Linked DNA regions of Homo sapiens. The protein of the gene in region 2 interacts with the protein of the main gene of each other region in a biochemical or structural test. Each region holds a gene or a part of one and is shown on either strand. Other genes may lie near its edges.

Region 1 (7,109 bases), on a different chromosome or scaffold from region 2:
GGGTTTTCTACTGAGGGATTGTGGGAAGATGTTTTAAGAACTAGTCTGATTGGATTTTAGGAAAGTTCATTCATTTTGATATGATGTTATCAGGGACATTTTCTATTTGCTTATAATTTTATCTGACCAATATTAGCTTGTATCAATTTGAGGTTTTTTTTTCCTTTATGAATCAATTGTGCAAGGTTTGCCCTACATCTCTTAAAAGGTGGTTAAACTGGAATCTTAAAGACAGTTGAATTTAGCCAAGACCAAAGATATGCAAAGAAAGAATATTTTGTTTATGTTACAGTACATTTAATAAATCCAAATGGCTCCCTTGATTCTTTTCTTTCTGGGACACCACGTATTGATTTCTGGCAGCTGGCCAAAGGCAGATGGTGGTGGAGCAAGCGAGGACAGTTAAGAATGTTGATGATTACTGGATTACTGAGGAGTACTGTGAGCTTTCTGGTCCTCTGCTCAGAGGTGTCTAGCTCTGAAACTGGGATCCTGGCTCTGAGCTGGAGAGGCGCTTCCAGTTACTGCTGTCCTGGAGCGCTGGAAGGGAGCATAAGTGTGAGGAGACAGTGGGCTTTTAGCCTGGGATGCAGATGAGAGATGTCTTGACCTGAGTGAAAACCTTGCAGGCAAGCTGCAGGTCTACCGAGCAGGGTGAGGGAGGCTCTCGACCTGGATACTGTGAACTAGGGAGAGAAAGTAAATTCAACAGAAGGAGGGCCCAGGGCAGAGATTTAGGAATATCCACAGTTTAAATATTGCTTTACTTAAGTATACTCTGCCTGACTATAAGTAGCATTTGAATGTTCAACATATGACCTTTCATTTCTCCCCTCCATTGGTTTGTCTTAACTGATAAATCTTTATTTTCCCATGGTCAACCTGGTAGTTTATTAATATTACATCTATCAGTTCCTGTTGAGTTGACATGAAAATGTTTTGGTGTGACCTAAGTTAATTTCTCTTTTTGTTTAATTTTAATTTGTAATGAGTTCCTCTTTTCATTCTGCCCATCCTTTGGTACTGCTTTGAGTTATGTCCTCTAGAATTCTCACTATTTCCTTATGATTGGCATATTTTCAAAGTTTTTTGGTGTACTAATTTTAAACAGTGTTTGTTGACACTGAGAATTCAGGACTTTGGAGTTTTAGACCACCATCACCTTCTACTCCTTCTCACACCATCCCAGGATAATTATTCTCTCATTTGAGATTAAGAAGTTATTTGGTTTATTTTATTATGGTTATATAAATATAGTTTACTGCTAAAGCAAGGTATATCATTCCATTTTCTATCTCGTACCCCTTTTTGCTCTTCCTGGGGTAAACCCTTGCTTTGTTTTTGTGTTTTCTTAGTTTGCACTGTGCCTATTATCATTTCCTTCCCAACTTTCTGACATAAAGATGAAAGCCCTATTGACACAATTTTCTACAGTGTCAGATATACCAAGTAATCTCACGGTTCCATTTTTCTTTCTTTTTTTCTAGAACCCTCCATCTTCTTCTTGTCTAACAGTTGCTCTTCAGTCTTGCTATACATACAGTAATACCTGAAGAATGTTTGGAGGATATTTGGTGTGGGACTTTTCTTTTTTTTTTTTCTTTTTCTTTTTTGTAGAGATGGGCTCTCACTATATTGCCCAGGCTAGTCTCAAACTCCTGGGCCCAAGCAATCCTCTTGCCTCAGCCTCCCAAAGTGCTGGGATTATAGGCATGATCCACTGTGCCCAGCCCTATGGGGAATATTTGTTGACTAAATATGTTTTATGTAAATTGCTTATCATACTCTTTGTTGTAACATCTGTGGCATTAATATGCCTCTTGTTAACACTCACCTACATTTTACCTGTTGTAAATCCACTGTCATAATTATTGAAAATATTTCTCCAGAGCTTTTTAATTCTATGGTTATTTATTTATTGTAGTATAGAACTTTTATGATTTCTTCCATCAGGGTGCATTCTGAATCATGCTTAGTGAGAGATGGTTTTTAACTCCACTTTAACAGTTAGCATCTATGTTTTACATCAGTGTCAATGTCACTTTTGTATTATATACGACACCAACATTTTATTATCTGAGTGATGAGAATGTTTATTTTTGTGGAAATGGAGATCTCATGAGACTTTAAGCAGATTGCTGGCCTTCTCCTCGATTTCCTTGATTGATTCCTGAAGTGGAACTGCAGTGCTAAGTGGAATTCCCTGGGAAGCTTGCTCAAGTAAGTAAGCATGAGAAATGCTGAATGAAATAAAGTGCAGCAAGCAGGGATAAATATCATGGGCATCTTCAGAGCCTTTGTGCAGGTAACATGCACAGAGATTCTCTGAGAGAGTCAGTCTCAGCCAGTGGTCCTACACTTCCATGACCCTGCAGTGCGTTTGTTCTTAGAGTGGCTTTCAGGGCTGGCTCTGCCACAGCCTCTTTGGGAAACCATGCATGACCTCTTGCTGCTCCTTACCAAGCTCCTTAGGCTTTGCTTGGTAGAGGCAGAATGTTGTGGTTGTTTTCATCTTAAATGCTAACAATATATGAATTATGTGGTGGATACACTGCCTCAAAGTGACATTTATCGAATATTTTTGTAGCTACGGGTTGAGAGTAAGGGTCTGAGGCCCCACTGGGTTCAAGTCCCCCTTCTTTATTTGTAAGCTCTTCTTTTGTAAATGGAGCAGTCACAGGGGGCTTCACTCTGATACCTAATGGAGACCGTGCCTGCAGTGCTCGGTACCTGGTATGTGGTTAAAACTGACATAACTGTCAGAGCCTCTCCCAGGCGGGCTGACTCTGGGAATCTGCCCTGCAGTCTTGGAGGGAAGGCACGTCCAGATAGGTTTGATGAGCAACTACAATTGCCAAAGTTAGTTTCTCTGACCTCCAAGATGGGAGAACTTTCTAATATTTTCTTTTAGGAAAGTTGTCCATTGCATAACTGATACACGAGTACATATCCTTTAGTACAGGATTCAGATACAGCGAGCAACAGAAAAGCCCTTCTTAACCTCCACCCTCAGTCCCAGCCCTGCCCCCAGTCCCACTGTTGGGGAGCAGTTGGAGCTCTAACCTCTCTTCTTTCGTCCTGTGCATTCATGTGTGCATGTGTGCACGTCTTCAGAAGATATAATGGTGGGCTGTGTATGTCTTCTTAATACCTTTATCACTCTGGAACTTTCTTTTTATTAATATGTTGGGGTGCGGGGAGGTCTCCATATTCAGTGATTATTGTAATTTTTATGACAGTCCAGAATAGGCATGTCGATTTTTTTTAATTTTTGATATTATAAACAGTGCTGCAATGAATGCACTTTTTCTTTTCATTCTTTCCCTCTCCTTTGCCATTTGCACTGTGTTTTCATGAAACCATCAGGTTAATCTTTATCTCAAGGAAGCCCTTCATCCCTGTCCATCCTGTTCTTCAGTCCATCCACTTAGTTTTCCTATGATTATTTTAGCAAGCAGGTGGTTAATTTCCAAGGAATGTAGTTACTTCTTTGGGATTTTTTTAAGTGATGTATTAGTTTTCTGTGTATTTTATTACTTGTTTGAGTGCACCATTACCCCCGTCTCCCGGGGTATCAGTTCATCTGCTTGCATGCTTGGTGCCTCTCTCTCCTGCTGTCAGCTTTCCTGATGTGCTGGGTATTTCCACGTGTGTGTTGGTTTTTTTTTTTTTTTAGGTACCCTAGGCATTAGTCTTTTAAGGCTGCATTCTTGCAGCCTGTCCCACATGAGATAGGAGGAGGGCAAGACCTGGATGTGCACAGGGCAGGATGGGCCCATAACTGGTCTGTGTGGTGTGTGGGTGGCAGGAACTCCCTGTTCTTTGTGGGTATGGCCATGCCTTCCCTATTCAAACGAAGCCACACACCTGTCTTTTCCTGCGAGGCGTCTTCTGCTGCTTTCTTGGAGCTGGGGAGCATCTACTCTTCCCTTGTCCTCCCGCTCCTCCCTGTTCCTCCCTCAGGTCTCTGTCGCTTCTAAGGCACTCCACCCTTGGTCTTCTCCCACCTTGCACCCCCCACACTGCTGCCTGCCTGCACAGGGGGACTGTGATTGCCCCCTTCAGTGTGAGCCTGACCTGCTTCATGCCTTTCAAGGAGAGCATTCATTGCCAAGCTACTCATGGAACATCTCCTCAGATCCTCAGCGTGCTATGACTTCATTTTCTGTAATACTGTTTTTCATGTTTCTTCCCCTTCTCTGCATTTATAGCTGTGCATATGCTTGAGGTGGAAGGCCACCACTTCCTTTTGGTTAACAACACCAATCAGCTGATGGTCATGGCTACGTGAAGGAACTCACAGTGAGGGCTCAGGAAGAGCCTGGCTAGAGCAGGCTGCATCGCAGGCCTTGGCGTTAGGTTCCCCAAATCACTGCTGGTGATCTTGTAGCTCTGTCATGAAGTCTGTCCTGCTTATTAGGATACCGAGGGTCCAAATTCATAGATTCTTAGAAGCCTGTTTAAATATGCAGAGTATCTAATTCAACCCGATTAGAAACGGGCTCAGAAAGGTGAAGGGATTTGTCCAACCACTGAGTGATGCTGCTGGGATTAGAACTCTCAAAACTAGGTGTTTCTAATCCAGAACCAGAATCCCTATCCACTACTCTAATAAGGCGTAAAAGAGGATCTGCTGTCCTGCCTAATTGGTGGGCAGGTTTGGAGTCCTGTCAGCAGCTCAGGAAAGCCTGGAGAGGCAGAGGGAGGACACAGGCTCAGTGTCAGACATGCCAATTTTACTCATCACCAATGGTTACACAAAACTTGTTTTGATCTTTGTGGCTTTTGCATTGAGAAGTTAAGCATATACAATAGGAATTAGACACAATCCCAAACCAATGAGAGACTCAAGTGAGAAGAGCTGAAGCTTTTATGCATGCCTTCCTTCCATAGAGATAAATTTACTATCCAGAGTGAACTAGAGCCTCGTGGAAAGTGAGTGCCGAGCCCCTAGCTGTGAGTGTCTCTGTCCTTCCCACATCAGACCTCCATGTCTGTGGCTGTCCCCCTACGGGGCAGAACTGCTGCTCTCTGCTTGTGTTGCTGTCGTGAGGGTTGGGAGTGGACAGGTGTGGACAGATCTCAGACCCGTTTCCCTCCTGTTATGGAAATGTTTGTGAGGCAGGTGGGACTTCAATGATTTGGTCAAGGAAAGGCAGCTTGGCAGCTGGGGAGAAGGGCTCAGGCTAGAAAGGCAAGCGTTTGTGAGGGATGATTTCCCCAAAGAAGCCAGCAGTGTGTAAGGTATTCCCCGGAGCTTGTTTCTTCTCAGAAGACTCTGGAAGCTGTGTCAGTGTCTGTTATGGAGGAATGGAGTATCAGTCCGATCAGGCTTTCATAACAAAGCACCACATACTGAACGGCTTGAACAGCCCAATGTGTCGCCTCCCAACTCTGAGCCAAAGAGACTGAGGTCAGGATGTCCCAGGGTGGCTCCTTCCAAGGGTTGGGTGGGACAATGTGCCCCCAGCATCTCCTTGGCTTGTGGGTGACCATCTCCAGCTCCACATGGCATGCTCCCTGTGTGCCTGTCTCTGGGTCCAGATCTCCTTTTCATGTAAGGACACCAGTCATGTTGGAGTAGGGCTCACCCTAAGGACTTCAATGGGGCGTAATCACTGCTGTAAAGACCCTGTCTTTAAATAAGGTCACACTCAGAGGGGTTAGGGAGTTAGGACATCAACATTTGAACTTGGGGGGACACAATTCAACCTGTAACAAATGTGTGAGTGAAGACTGGCACCTCCCCACGATGGCCTTTCTGTGATGCCATCAAGAGCACCAGGGAGCTCTCCAGATATGGAGATGGACAGATGTCTAAGGCCCCTGAAATGAGCCTGCTGTACAGATGATTCCAGAACTCTGTCAGTGTGAAGACCAAACACAATTAAGCACATTAAAATACTTACGGTAAAGTGTTTCTTTCACTTTAGATGTGCAAAAACTTAAAGAGAGAGAGACTTATGAGAAGACTCAGGGAAGAAATGTAAGATAAAGGTGTTAAGGGAGACAAACTCCACAAAATTGTAAAGTGAAGCTGCTGTGGGGAGTAGAGCCCAGACCCAGATAATATGCAGGCATGGGTCCAAGGGAGGCTTTGCACACCAGGCGGGGGAGGTGCAGGGCCATGGATGAATGGTCTTGGGAAAACGGCAAATCGTTTGGAAAAAAAAACAAAACTTTGCTCTTTATATCAAAATAAATTCCAAGCTGAACAAAGAATAAAAATATAGCATTGAAATAATGAAGCTATTAAAAGAAAACTTAGGTGAGTTTTAAAATAATTGTGAAGAGGCCTGTCTAAATGTGATAAAACATATGAATTTATATTCACACTCATCACAAGATTGATAAGCATGATTTCCTAAAATTTTAAGCAAATCCCCATAAAATGAAAAAATATACAAATAAGTGAAAAAAATGGTAAGATATATTTAATTTCAATACTTGTGGTAAAGCATCAATAGCTTTAATATGCAGCGAGTTTTTTCAAATCAATAAGAAAAAAGACACAGATGGGTGCTGACAGGGCCGTTTGGTAATATCTTTTAAAATTTAAAACACAAGTGCTTTCACTCAACAACTTCACTTTTAGGAACCTATCACACATATAAATTGACAAAAGTGGAGAAATATTCATTGCAACATTTTATTTTATAATAGCAAAAAAAAATCACTAAGGGAAGTACAGTTGATTCATATGTTGGAATCCTATGCAGTCTTCTAAAAAATGTGGAATTTATTTCATACACCAAATATAACAATGTCCAAGTTCTACTAGTGAAAAAGCAAGATGTAACATATCATTGTATTTGTTTAAAAAACTCATGCTGGGTTGGGTGCAATGACTCATGCCTGTAATTCCAGCACTTTGGGAAGCCAAGGTGGGTGGATTGCTTGAGCTCAGGAGTTTGAAGCCAGCCTGGGCAATATGGCAAAACCCCACCTCTATGACAAATACCAAAAAAAAAAACTAGCCTGGACTGGTGGTGTGCACCTGTAGTCCCAGCTACATGGGGGCGCTGAGGTGGGGGGATCACTTGAGTCCAAGAGGTCAAGGCTGCAGTGAGCTGAGATCATGCCACTGCACACCAGCCTGGGTGACAGAG
Region 2 (7,318 bases):
AACTTCCTATAAGCAGTACAATGATATTTGCTATTATCCCTGGAGACTGAATTCACTGTGATCTTCTCTAAATTATAACTATTAGGAAGCTGTTTTCCATCCTTGTAGTAAACCTTTTGATGAGTGTTTTTGTTGTCTTTCCCCTGACATCTCAGAATGACATTGTCTCCTTCAAAGACAGGATGTAAAGCCTGCAGGATCAGCCAGTCTGCAAAGAGCACAGGAGCACACTCAGGTTATCCCCTGCTGTTTCTGCCTTCACTTTCATTTCCACCCATGAGGCAAGAGCCACAGTTCTATACACACCTGCAAATGGCCCCCACCCACATTGCCATGTGGCCCCAAATACCTGATTCTTCCTTGCCCTACAAGGGTGAACCAATTCCCAGAAAATGTTCTTGAGAAATCTTCACATGTCTTTTCACAAAAGAGGAATCCCAGACTTGAACCCCTTTTTGCCTGATGGCCCCTGGGTCACCCACAATTCTTTGGAGGTAGATGGATAGACAATCCAGCATCATGCTGCTGCCCTATCTCTTTATTTTCCCCACTGGGGTCAGTGCATCAATCCCCATGTCTGCTTACAACTCTGCCTAGGATCCCTGCATTAACCCGGCCCTCAGGCATTCTGCCTGGTGGCTTGACTTTAGACACTCCCCTTCCATTCCTCACCAGGTGAAAATTCCACATGCACGGCATCACTGAGGGAGGATCCTCGGGTCTTACATTGGTAATTTCCAGGCTCTGTAATTTGGATCTTGTCATGTTTTATTTTCAACAACTTCTCATCGTGATACCAATATGTGTCTCCCTGGGCTAGGGAATGTGATATGCTGCTGCATATGAGAGCCACTTTTTCTCCTTTGAAGGCTGTGGACCATGGAGGATTGAGGAGAAGTACAGCTTTTGGGGCCACCCCTAAACAGGAAATAGAAAGATGAAGGCAGGGGAAGGTCAATGGGAGGTGGGCACAGCACATGGGGAGCCCAACCTACAGTCAGGAGTTTTCCTGGACTAATTTCCAGTCAGGACCAGGGTGGAAAATTGAGCAGAAATAACCTAGGGAAATGCCTGGGAAAGAATCTGTTCTTCCTCATCCATTTCCTGGAGGTGGGCAGAAGGGTATTATAGGGGAGAGGTCTCAGTTTCCTGGCATAGCCTCAGAAAAGCTCAGGAGATGTGATTTGCCATTGGGCAAAAACTGCGAAGGCCTCAGAATGTGGCTGATCCTGAAATTCTCTTGTCCTATACATTTCTGTCCAGATAAAGGTGAACCTGGGATGTATATACCTCAGAAGTAGTTTCTAGACTCCAGAAAATTACTTCCTACTTGTTAACACTTAAAATGAATAAGATTTTCTCACTTGTATTACTTTTATATCTCTCTTAGCTTTGAAAGTCTATGGGGAAGGCAACTTTACTCTCCATTTAAGTTGGACACAGTAAACAATGGAGGGATATAAAGAATTTAAATGGAGGAGGATGGGTTGCCTGAGAAGTCAGACTTGTGTATGGAATTGCAACTGACTGACAGGCATGGAAGTGAGGTGTGGCAGTGGCATGAGCTCTTTTTGGAGATTTATAAGGATTCTGCTGTAGCATCTTCCTCCGTGGATGGGATCTATTTCTATGTCCTTTGATAGCAGCACTAGCTTGGACATTCAGAGGGAGATGTACTAGAGAATATGGAGATCACATATGAGATTCCTTCATCATCAGCCTCTTGCCTCTGTCCTTTGCTCTGCAAGTGTTTCCTTCCTGTAGTCTGAGGAATACCGGTAATGTAGGGAGAAAAAAAAAAAAAAACCTAGAGACTGAAAAAGTCGGAGGAGGCTCTGTTCACCCAATATAGTAGCAGATGTGACCCCAGAGCATTAGCATTGCTGATGGGATGCGTGCCTGCAAGGGTTAGGGCAGGCTGTGTGGGCTGAGGGGACCAATATCCAGAGACCAGAGGGGCAGAGAGAAGGAGAAACTTACCTGATTGTTCTCTTCCAGGAGCTGTGAGGGAGCAGAAAATGACAATCAGACACTCTCCGAAACATTTTCTAACAACCTAACCACAACCACTTCTTTTGTTTTTCCTTATCATTTCTTTGCTCCCTTTTTATATCATCCAGAGCCCCTAAACAACAAAGAAAATGTCATATAATGTATTTTACAAACGTGATGGCTTATGTCCAAGGCCTGACCTCATCTCTGCTATTATTTACTTGGCCACGGCACACTTTATTCTCTCCTTCTCTTCTCTGAGTGCAGAGGCAGACAAGGACTTACAGAAATGGTTTATCCTCCTTTCGTTCCTTGGGCTCCTATTGTTCCCCTCACTTTTTCAATCTCTGATTAAATTTTGGCTTAAAACTTCTAGAAAACAGTGATGTTTCTCAGTAAACCTTCCTTCACGTGCCTAGGTTTTTAGAAGTAACTGCTCATCTGAAAAATTATTTAGTCTGAGGCTTAAGAGGGAGGGTGGGATATAGAGTTGTGGTTTGGCAGAAGGAAAAATCCAAGTTTCCTATGAGGTGAGAAAAGCAGTGGGTGAGAAACCAAGGTCAGGATATCTGGCTTGCTCTGATGGTTGCATTTGGAGCCTCTTGGTTGTCCAGGGAACCCAGCTCTGCTCACTTCCCATCCCTTGCTATCTGTCTCTGAACCCCAAGTAGAAGCAGAGATAGAAGCTCCTTGAGTTTTTCCCTGGTCACCTTTAGGAACTGAGGCCGTGGCCCCATTATAGCCCATCTACTCACTCAGGATCAGCAGCAGCAGCCACAGAAGCATGGGCACCGGCCGGGCAGAGGGTTGGGAAAGTCTGTCTCACCAAAAGCCCGACTTATCTCCAAGAAGGAGGGCAGGAAGCTGCTACTCAGATGAGACCTGCAAGAATCAGAAAAGGGAAGAAGAGCTTAGTGTCATATTTTGCTTTGGGCTCTGAAAATGTGAATGTGGCTACCTTCCTAAATGCTGTTTGTATCTCAATCCCGGTAGTGATACATTTTTAGAAGTTGGGGCTCATCTTCCATCAGCTGCAGTCTCTCAGGAGTAATGTCTCCAAGACTGTGCCTGGGTTCTCTAGAAATATCAAGTTGTGTATTTGCTAGTATTCAAATAATTCTTTCTGTATTTTTCATATGGGAAACCCCTTCACTACCTTGTCTTCACACAGCCTTTGGTTCTGCATGCAGCTCCTAATGTAGGCAAGCTTAATGAGCGTGGTGTGAATCACACAGTCAAGGTGTCAAGCATATGCCTTTTTGACTTTCACATAAGTTGTTATGAGGCTTCTGAACAGGAAAATAATACAAATGTACAGATCAAGGACTTCCCGTAATCTCACCCAGATCTGCAAATTAGGAGATAAATCAGCAAGCGTACCACCGTTTTTAAAGCCAAAGCCCTTCTCAGAAAGGGCTTTGCAATCAAAGAGGTTCCACCCCATTATTTTGTTTCAGGTCCTTTGTGTTTTTTTCACAGTGTTTATAACAATTTGCAATTATTTTCTCTATTTCCTTGTTTGCTTTCGTGTCTTCTTTCCCACTAACATTTAAGGGCCCCTTTTCTTACCCCTTATATCCCCCGCACCTCTAACTGTTCTTTCTTGAAAGCATTCCTTTAGTAAGTATTATTTGAGGGACTATTGAATAAAAACTCTGAACCAGTGTTTCTCAACCATTTTTTCGTTATTGCTCCCCTAAGGATCTTTTTTAGACAATTTTGTTTTTAGCCACCCCCTTTTTCCATGAAAATTTAATACCACAAATATACTATGTATGTGTTTATGTGCTGCATGTATAGCTGTGTTTGATACATTAAAAAATTAGTTTTTTTCATCTTCCCAAGAGTCAATTCTTGCCCCTTTGAAGGTGATATAACTTCTGTTAGGAAGGCGTGTTTTAGACTTAGAGGTAAGCCATTCTTGGGAATCTACCTACCAGGATAAAGTTGTCATCATTCAGATACCTTTACATTAGAAATGGGAGATGATCTCAGATCAAATGTCCCATCCTCAGGGTGCCCAACCTTGGCAGGTAATGGAAAGAGGGTCCTCTTTTTTAACAAATATTATTATGTTCTTTCTCCCATGGAAGTCACCAAATTTTATCATTCTCTATATGTTTATGTGATTGTATAATGCCTATTTTTCTCATTAGATAGTATTACAAGGTTTGGGAACAAGCCTGGTTTGTTCTTCATTTTGTTTCAATGCCTAACAGAGCACTTGTCACATACCAATTTGTCAATAAGGACTTGCCAAATGAACGACCAACAAACAGTAAGGAACAGGATGACAATAGAAGAGGATTGGATGTGTTTCAATGTGTGCTTAGTCATTCCTGGTTAGAGATTTCTCCAATATTCTGGAGAAGATATATTGGTTATATCAATTTATTTAAATTAAATTAAATTATTTATTTAAACTATACCCAGTTAATCCACACTACAGGGTCTTTGTAAACTTGTAATTGTAGAGTATGGTGCCACATCTACTGAGAGGTATTCTCTGACCTCCCACATTTGGGCTGGGTGTTCCTCTCATGTGCATCAATAACACTTGGATTTCCTTCACTCCAGAACCGATCACAGTGAACTGAAACATCCTGTCCCTTTGATGGTATTCCTCAATGATCTAAGTATCTTTAGGGAAGGGAGCGGTTAGGGCTTATTTTTTATTTCTCTGAGGACAGCATGCTCATCAACAAAAGGAAGGTTCAGTGGGATATGGATAGCTTCGAGATTCAGTGTGTCATTTCAGACTAATTCAAAATATGAATAAACCTCAAATATACTTCATGCTCAAAGGTGACGATGTTGTTGATGACTCTGAAGTATTGTTTCCTGTGGTTGGAAAGATATGCTCAGAAAAGAGTATTTTGAATTTAATTGCTCATCTGTAGCCAAAAATGTTACATTTTTCTACGTCTCTCTCTGAAGACAGGAACTATGTCATATTCACATTATTCTAGCACCTAGCACAGTGCCTAACACTCAGTAGAGGATTGCCAGATAAAATGCAAGGGTCTCATTTAAATTTGTATTTCAAATAAAAAACAAATAATTTTTACTATAATTATGTTCCATACAATACTTGGGATATGTATGAGTTCGTTTTCATGCTGCTGATAAAGACGTAACAAGACTGGGCAATTTACAAAATAAAGAGGTTTATTGGACTTACAGTTCCACATGGCTGGGGAGGCCTCACAATCATGGCAGAAGGCAAGGAGGAGCAAGTCACATCTTACATGAATGGCAGCAGGCAAAGAGAGAATGAGAGCCAAGCGAAATGGGTTTCCCCTTATCAAACCATCAGATCTCGTGAGATTTACTCACTACCAGAAGAACAGTATGGAGAAAACTGTCCCCAGGATTCAATTATTTCTCACTGGGTCCCTCCCACAACACATGGGAGTTATGGGAGTACAGTTCAAGATGAGATTTGGGTGGAGACATGGAGCCATATCAGGATATAATTGCATTTAAAAAGTAGTCACTGTTTATCTGAAATACAAATGTAACTAGGAGTCCCATATTTTTATTTGCTAAATACGCCAAATCTAATTGAACAGAATAACTTTTCATTTGCCTGAATATATTAATGAATGGTTGTGTTGGGGGGACATCTATTTTCTTCCATGTGCATGCAACTCCTACTCCTGTTCCTCCTTCTGCTCCTTAACTCACTCCATCCTGGAAGAAGTGACGTGCCTTATGTGATCAGTAAATTTGGGAAGAATAATTGAGTCATGATAAACTTATTATTATTATTACTATAATTTTTTGAGAAAGAGTCTCACTTTGTTGCCCAGGCTGGAGTGCAGTGGCACAATCTCGGCTCACTGCAAACTCTGCATCCTGGATTCAAGCGATTCTGGTGCCTCAGCCTCCCGAGTAGCTGGGACTATAGGCACGTGCCACCACGCCCAGCTAATTTTTGTATTCTTAGTAGATACTGGGTTTCACCATGCTGGCCAGGATGGTCTCGATCTCCTGACCTCATGATCCACCCACTCGGCCTCCCAAAGTGCAGGGATTACAGGCATGAGCCACCGCACCTGGCCCCATGCTAAACTTAACTCCATGCTCTTCCCCCTGGATGCAACTCTACTGGCAGAAGGGTTTATGAACAAGTATACGCCTTCCCCTGTGTGGAGATTTAAGTGGGGAGGGAGTGAGGGAGTCTAAAGTTCCAGAGCAAATTTTCAGAGACACAAACAATTGGGGCATGGGTTTAGATGTAAAAGAACTAAAAACAAAAGAACAAATGTATGAGAGCTATATATTTACAAGGAGAGGCTTTTGGTGGGAAGAGATCCTGTCATTCTCAGCCTTGGGATTTGTTTAGTAAGAGAGACGGGCATTTTCCAGATTGTAGAGGCCTATTCTGAGCCACCTTTTATACTTAACTACTGAGCCTGGGCAAGATGCTTGCAGTCTTAGGGCATATGGTTTTGTGACACGACTTGTGGTGGCTTTGTTCATAGGTCAGTGGTTGTTTCTATAGAGGCAGGACTGTACCCATGAATGTCAATAAGCAAAAGGCACAAGAAACTTGTGAGGGCCTTCAAGATTGCTGCGAAGCCCTTGTAAGCAGGGACAGACAAGGCAAGGGCTTACGTATGGGCAGTAAGTGCTTGGAAGGACACAAGTGCTGCCTGGCAACAGAACTTTGGGGGCTGCAAGATGGTTCAACAGAGGCCCACAGTAGGCACAGTCACATTTTCTAGGTAGTCATAGCTGAAGCAGATAGTCTTTTGTTTTGTTTTTTTTGGGGGGAGGGAGGGGCAAAAATAGAAATCTCTAAAGCATTTTTAGGCACTGGTGACTGGAATAATATTTTTGGCTCCAAGATTCCTTGTATGCTACAAAACACCAATGAGAATCTAGTTTTAAATTGCTAGAATGAAGCCTAGAAAAGCTTCCCATGTCTCAGTCACCCCAAATCTCACCCTGCTTTCAGGTCCAAGCAGCAAACTGGATGGATTACTCTTGAATTCATGTGGCATTCTCTTGGCTCAAGGGTGGAAAACATTTAAACAATTACTGACATGATTACATAGTTATTGTAGGTGGCTTAATTTTTTAATTCTTTCATATACAGATGGGGCTGTGCTCCCCAGACTGGTCCTGAACTCCTAGACTCAAACAATCCACCCACCTCTGCCTCCCAAAGTGCTGGGGCTCCAGGTGTGAGGAAACACACCTGGTCAGTTATATTTTCTAACTGAACTAAATGTAAGTACAAGGTGAAAATATTCCCTAGGAGACAGTCTTCTTAGGCCAGTACAATTCCATATCAAGCAGAGGTTGGTCTGCTCACTTG
Region 3 (7,109 bases), on a different chromosome or scaffold from region 2:
AGAGAGAGAAGGAGAGGCTATTTTGGAGAGGGAGGTCAGGGAAGGCCTCCTGGAGGAGGTGACTTAGGCAGAGACCTGAATAAAGTGGAAGGTGTTGGAGGAAGAGTCTCCAGGCAGAGGGAACAGACAGTACAAAGGCCCTGAGGCTGCACCATGCCTGGTTTGTCCGAGGGACCTGAACGAATAACATGAGGAGGCCCGTGTGGCTGGAGGGGAGTGAGTGGCGGGGGGTGGTGATGGGCATCATGAAGGGCCTTGGGGGCCACCCTGAGGACTTGCATTTTCACCCCGAGTGAGGTGGGAGCCTAGAGGGCTTCAAGCAGAGAAGAGGATGTGATGGCATGACGGGGGCCAGCAAGTCTCACCCCAGGGAGTCCCTGCAGCCCCAGTGCTGGACACCTTCACTGGCCCTGCTTTCCGGAGGAGGTCTGGCGAGCTTCACTCGCTGCTGAGGCTGCACTGTGACCATGTGGTGGGTCCACGATTCCATGATTTGAATCCAATCCCTGCAGTCAGGAAAGACATATGAAGGAGGAGCCTGCAGCCATGGCTAACTGCGGCTGTGTGGCTCATGGCGTCACCAAGCTGGCGTGTGCTGACGACCAGTGCCTATGCTGCCTCTGTTGGTGGGCACAGGCGGCCCGAGCACAGCTGGGGGATTAAGGAGCAGGGAACATGGCTTCAGAGGGACTTAGGGTCTCAGGTGAGGACTAGGGGTTCAGAGAGAGAGAGCCAGGAGCTGGAGTGGGAACAGGGTGGTGGGGGGGCAGTAGGAGGAGGTGGGGCGGTGAGGGGCTGGGGCCCTGCTCCTGCAGAGCCTTGGATGGGGACATGTCAAGCCTCTGGCTGGGGGGACATGCGGAGCCTCTGGCTGGGGAGACATGCGGAGCCTCTGGCTGGGGGGACATGCGGAGCCTCTGAGCCTCTGGCTGGGGTGACATGTGGAGCCTCTGGCTGGGGGGACACGAGGAGCCTCTGAGCCTCTGGCTGGGGGGACACGTGGAGCCTCTGGCTGGGGGGACATGTGGAGCTTGTGCTGCTCCTGCCCGCTCCCACCAGGTCCAGTGGCTTTGGTGTGATACCTCTGCTCTGACGATGGGCATGTAATGGGGGCTTCTGATGCCCAGGGAATGTTCTGTGAAACAGTAGACCTTCAAGGCTTTGCTGAATAGGTGTGGGAATTAAGTGACGCTGAAAGAGGTCCTTCCATGTGGTCTTCTCGGAGCCTTTAATGTGCTTTTCACAGCATTTGAAACTGTATTTGACCCCTTGACTCTTTTTTCCTTTGAAGCATGTTTGGGGAATCTGATCTCTCTGGAACAGCTGTAATCTAGCACTGCCTTTACCCAGGGAGGCTGGGTGAATGGTGGGATTCCAGGCAGGTCCTTCTGACCAGGCTCCAAGGCTTCCTCCCATCATCCTCCCAGGGCCTGGGCTGTGAGTGTGGGGCAGGTGCCCCGTGGCTGCTCTGCTGTGATCTCTGTGCTGTGATCCAGGGGCTGTAAGTTCTGGGAAGGCCAAACTAGGATCTCTGAACTGTGAGCTCAAGAGGAAGCTGACTGGGGTCAGCCTAGGGAGAACCATAGGCCAGGCTTGGGGAATGAACAGGCTCACTGGGGACTGAGGGACGCGGCTCCTAACCCAAGTCCTGTCCGTCGGGATGGCCCAGGCAGGTCGAGGGCTGGGGTGGGTCTCATGGTGGGTGTGTCTTCTGGGAGGGCCACGAGTCTGCAGGGACACAGCTGAGAACAGAAACATTTGATCCCCTGCCTGGGGTCTGGGGTCACCCCGGGGAGCTCTAGATCGGTGCAGCTCACTGACAGCAGACACTCCGGCTAGCCGCTGCGTGGCAAATGCTCCCACCTCTTGCCCCCGGACTTTTCATCTCTGCCACCTCTGCCCACCTTCTCTGGCCTCCCCAGCATCTCTGGCCATGGGGTCCCTGGGAACTTGGGCCCCATGTTTTACTAGTGAGGACAGTCCAGAAAGGCCCCAGGGGTGGAAGAGGAGGCGCCCACCACCCGACCTGTGTGTGTGGGGTGGTGCTTGTGATTACCGTTGTCCTTGTGGGCAGTGGGACAGGGAAGCTGGGACGCAGCCGAGATGCACAGGAAGAGAGCCTGCCTCTGGGACTCCTTAGCCTCGGGTCATGGATGGCAGCCCTGGGCTGGGCACTGAGCCTCCCTCATCTCCTCTTCTGCCCTAACCCACTTCTAGCTACCCAGGCTGCACCTGCGGCCACGTGGGGAGGAGCTTCTCAAACTGTGTTGGCGACAGTTTCCTGCCACAGCTTCCTGCCCCAGAGACCAGCTTTGCTACTCTGCACCCATGGTCCTTGGACAAGCCCTCAGTTTTCTGCCTCATCCTGCATCCTCATGCTTTATGGGAGTGGCTCCATGAGTCTTCAAGGATGGGCTGGCTGGGTTGGAGAAGATGGAGGGGAGAGGGAAGGGTGCACTAGGTGGAGGGTGCTGTGTGGATGAAAGTATGAACATCCATTTGAAGGAAGGCAAGTAGCACAGCTCAGCTGGGGCAGAGGGCTGGGGAGATCCAATGCAGTAGCCATTAGGGTCTTGAGCAAGGGAGGCCTTGGGGAAGAATTGCCAAGGAGCAACTTGCAGACTCTGGGGCTCAGCTCTGTGGAAATAGACTGTGAGGTTCAGCCAGCCACAGGCAGCATGAGCATGCCATCTGGATCTTAGGTTGGTTGTATTAATGGAAACAGTTGGTGGAGATCAAAGGAGATGATGCCAGCACCAACCGACCTCAGTCGGGCGAGAGATCTGGGCTCTGGGAGAGGTGGGTGTGGCAGCATGTACAGCTACTGACAGGATGACCCAAGTAAGGGGACGGGGGTGGGGGAAGGAGAGTGAGCAGGATGGTCAGAGGGCAGAGGCAAGCCAGGGAGTTTGTGAAGGACCAGAGAGGTCTGTGGGGCTCAAGCAGGAGGGAGGAGTCATAGGTGTCGGCCATTCAGGGGGCCCAGGATTGAGGAGGTCACAGAGTGCTTGTCTGGTGCCTACAGACTGCCAGGGGTGCTATCAGTGCTGGAGAACAGCCTGGGGGGGGGGCGCAGACCAGGTCTGGCTGAGAGGCTGGGAGTCAAGGACATAGGGACAGGAGTGTAGACAGCCCTTAATCACTTTTCCTATTTTCATTAGCATTTTTAGTGTCCATTGTGTCTGTATCTTCCAGTTCCTTTCCCCCTTAATTAAAAATTTGGGGTATAATTTACATGCAATAAAATTTTTATATCATTTTAGTGAAAAATTCTGAGATTTGACAAATGCATACAGCCCAGAGACTACCACCACATCAATCAAGATACAGACTATTCCCCCAAATTCCGTCCTGCCCTCTGTCGTCACTCCTTCTCCGGCCCCCAGCACCCAGCAACCTCTGGTGCGTTTTCCGTCCCTATAGTTGTGTGTGGAATCACACAATTCGTAGCCCTTGGAACCTGGTTTCTTTCATCCAGCCTGAGGCCTTTGCGATGCGTTTGCGGAACTGCGTGTCTCCGTATGCTGTTCCACTTACCGCGGAGTAGAATTCCACTGTAGGCATGTCCCACAGTGTATCTTATTCATCTGTTGGGAAACATGTAAGTTATTCCTAATTTTTGGCAACTGTGGCTAGTACGGCTATAAATGTTCCTGTGTAGGTTTTTGTGTGAATGTAAATTTCCATTTCTTTAGAGTGAATACCTAGGAGCCTTCATGGGTTTTTTTGTTTTGTTTTGTTTTGTTTTGTTTTGAGATGGAGTTTTGCTCTGTTGCCCAGGCTGGAGTGAAGTGGTGCGATCTCGGCTCACTGCAACTTCCACCTCCTGGGTTCAAGCGATTCTCCTGCCTCAGCCTCCTGAGGAGCTGGGACTACAGGCGCCCACCACCACGCCCGACTAATTTTTTTGTATTTTTAATAGAGACGGGGTTTCACCATGTTCGCCAGGCTAGTCTCAAACTCCTGACTTTAGGTGATCCGCCTGCCTCGGCCTCCCAAAGTGTGGGCCACCGGGCCCAGCCATTAATTTTTGTATCTTAATGGAGACGGGGTTTCACCATGTTGGCCAGGCTGGTCTCAGACTGCTGGCCCCATGTGATCCACCCGCCTTGATCTCCCAAAGTGCTGGGATTACAAGCGTGAGCCACTTCGCCCAGCCGCTTCATGACTTTTTAAAAACACTCTTGTGGAATGGTGACCTTTTTCTCCAGGTGGAGCCACAAATGCAGTCCCTTATGAATCTCTGGAACACCCACCTGTCTGTAACTGTTGGGACATCCAGGACCCCCCTCAAGCTTGGCCCTCCCAACCTCACTGTCACAATCAATCGGGTTACAGTGCAGATCCTGGCCCCTCCTCTAGCTACTCTGACCCAGACTTCACCTGATTCCCATTCCAGTACCTTCCTTTCAGCTCCAGAGCCCATCTCTGGACACCCAGGGCAGAGGGAGCTTTCACAAAAGCATTCATTTTACCCCTTGGTTGCATTTGCATAACTAAGAAGGGCACTCAAAGTCAATTCTCCAATGCAAACTTATGCCTGAGTAGCCTTGCTGGGCCTATGTTAGTAGAGAAACAACTCAGAACCGCTATGGAGAGGTATTTTTTCCCAACATTCTATGAAAACTTACAAATATGCAGAAAATAGAAAGAATTAACTGTACACCAATAACTCACCTGCTAGATTCTCCAGTTTATGATTTGCTATAATTGCTTTATCACATACAGTTGATCAACACTGCGGAGTTCTTATTTGTGAGTTTGCCTACTTGTTAAATTTATCTGAAACCCTAAAACCAACATGGCACTTTTGTGGTCATTCTCAGACATACAGAGTGGCAAAAATATGAATCACTCGATACACATTTTCCCACCGAGGCTGCACAAGGCAAACACTCTCATGCTGCAGATAAGTGTCTTTTTCATGTTCTTTTTTTTTGAGACAGAGTCTCACTCTGTCGCCCAGGCTGGAGTGCAATGGCGTGACCTCAGCTCACTGCAAGCTCTGCCTCCTGGGTTCATGTCATTCTTCTGCCTTGGCCTCCCGAGTAGCTGGGACTACAGGCGCCCGCCACCATGGCTGGCTGATTTTTTTTTTTTTTTTTTTTTTTTTGTATTTTTAGTAGAGACAGGGTTTCACTGTGTTAGCCAGGATGGTCTTGGTCTCCTGACCTTGTGATCCACCCGCCTCGGCCTCCCATAATGCTGGATTAGAGGCGTGAGCCACCGCAGCCGGCCAATCTTTTTCATGTTCTATTTGGTGGTGCCACATATTTTGTTTTTTTATTTTATCTTTTTTTTTTTTGAGATTGCTGTCTCGCACTGTCGCCCCAGCTGGAGTGCAGTGGCAGTGGCGCGATCTCAGCTCACTGCAACCTCCGCCTCCCAGGTTCAAGCAATTCTGCTTCAGCCTCCCGAGTAGCTGGAATTACAGGCACCTGCCACCATGCCCGGCTAATTTTTTGTATTTTTAGTAGAGACGGGGTTTCACTGTGTTGGCCAAGATGGTCTCGAATGCCTGACCTTGTGATCCACCTGCCTTGGCCTCCCAAAGTGCTGGGATTACAGGCGTGAGCCACCACGCTCGGCCTATTTTATCTTTTTAAAGACAGAGTTTCGCGCTTGTTGCCCAGGCTGGAGTGCAGTGGCCTGATCTCGGCTCAATGGAATCTCCGCCTCTTGGGTTCACGAGGTTCTCCTGCCTCAGCCTCCCAAGTAGCTGGGATTACAGGTGCCCGCCACCACCTCTGGCTAATTTTTTGTATTTATGGTGGAGACGGGGTTTCACCATGTTAGCCAGGCTGGTCTCGAACTGCTGGTCTCAAGTGATCCACCCGCCTTGGCCTCCCAAAGTGCTGGATGACAGGCATGAGCCGTTGCACTCGGCCTCACATATTTTGAATGTTTGTGCTTTTTGTTGGTGATTTCAGTGGTTGACATGGCCCCCAACCATAGTGCTGAAATGCTATCTAGCATTCCTAAGGGCAAGAATGCTGTATGTGCCTTATGGAGAAAACATGTCAGATAAGCTTATAGTTATAGTGCTGTTGGCTAAGAGTTCAATGTTAGTGAATCAACCATGTCTATTAAATAAGGTGCCTTTAAACAGAAACTCACAAAAAAACAAGGTTATGTCTTGATCAGTTGATGAAAATGTAAACAGTTTCCTAGGAACCTAACTCTGTATTTCCCCTAGGAGGGATAGTTCTATATTGCTAATTCAGTGTTTTCGTTGACTTTATAGAACTGCAGAGAATGACAGAAATCAACTGTGTCTATCTGGCTGTCTATCCTTTTATCCATCCCTCTCGCTCTGTTCGTCCATCGGTCAGTGTTATTTTTGGGATGCTCTCAAATTAGATTACAGTCCTCAGTTCCCATCACTCCTAAACATTTCTGCAAGCAGATCGTTACCTAGGGTTCAATATTTTATGTTTCTTTTTTAATTGAGGGAGGGCAAATACAATGGAATGAACACATCTTAAGTGTACATTCTCTTAGTTTTCGGAAAATCAGACACTTGCATAACCCAAGCCCTGTGAATATACAGGACGTCACCATCACCCCAGAAAGTTGAGGGCAGGCAATTTTAAGTTATCTGCCTTACCAGATATCCATCTGTCTAAATAGCCTTAATTCCTCCTCCCCTCAATCACACGTTTTGTTTAATAGCTGTATCAGAGTTCACTTTGAGATTAAACCCTAATGCATTTAACCAGTCCCCTAGGGATGGATATTCCAATTAGCGTATGCTCTGTAGAAACTTGCCAAGGAAGGCAGAGGGCAGGGCGAGGGGTGCCTGCTAAGGCCGAGGGGAAAGGGTCAGCGGAAGGGACAAGGGAGGCTGAGGGGTAGGGCCCTTGGGTGAGCAAAGCTGGGTGCGGCCTCAGGGCCTCTGCGCATGCAGTCCTCTCTGCCTGATGCGCTGTCCCGCGCGCTTTTTGAAAAGTTGGCTCCTCCTCCTTCAGCTCTCCCTTCAAATGCTAGCTCCTTGGAGAAGGTGACCATCCTAGCTAGAGCCACCTCTTCTCTCTCTTAATGTCACTCCACTTATTTCCTTTGTAATGCTGACCTCAATCTGTAATTATTATTTTTGTTTCTTTCTCAGT

What was found.
Region 1: the proteins of FCRL3 (region 2) and SYK form a complex in vitro, tested with the Homo sapiens proteins (one study listed by BioGRID).
Region 3: the proteins of FCRL3 (region 2) and ZAP70 form a complex in vitro, tested with the Homo sapiens proteins (one study listed by BioGRID).

What each region holds. Positions count from the first base shown.
Region 1 is NC_000009.12:90,804,803-90,811,911, forward strand, and holds part of SYK (tyrosine-protein kinase SYK), read left to right. Parts: intron 1-7,109. UniProt on the Homo sapiens protein: Non-receptor tyrosine kinase which mediates signal transduction downstream of a variety of transmembrane receptors including classical immunoreceptors like the B-cell receptor (BCR).
Region 2 is NC_000001.11:157,697,712-157,705,029, forward strand, and holds the start of FCRL3 (Fc receptor-like protein 3 isoform 1 precursor), read right to left. Parts: upstream 3,059-7,318; 5' UTR 2,951-3,058; intron 2,875-2,950; 5' UTR 2,779-2,874; coding exon 2,748-2,778; intron 2,002-2,747; coding exon 1,981-2,001; intron 919-1,980; coding exon 673-918; intron 209-672; coding exon 1-208. UniProt on the Homo sapiens protein: Promotes TLR9-induced B-cell proliferation, activation and survival but inhibits antibody production and suppresses plasma cell differentiation. Enhances activation of NF-kappa-B and MAPK signaling pathways in TLR9 stimulated B-cells.
Region 3 is NC_000002.12:97,716,493-97,723,601, forward strand, and holds part of ZAP70 (tyrosine-protein kinase ZAP-70), read left to right. Parts: intron 1-7,109. UniProt on the Homo sapiens protein: Tyrosine kinase that plays an essential role in regulation of the adaptive immune response. Regulates motility, adhesion and cytokine expression of mature T-cells, as well as thymocyte development.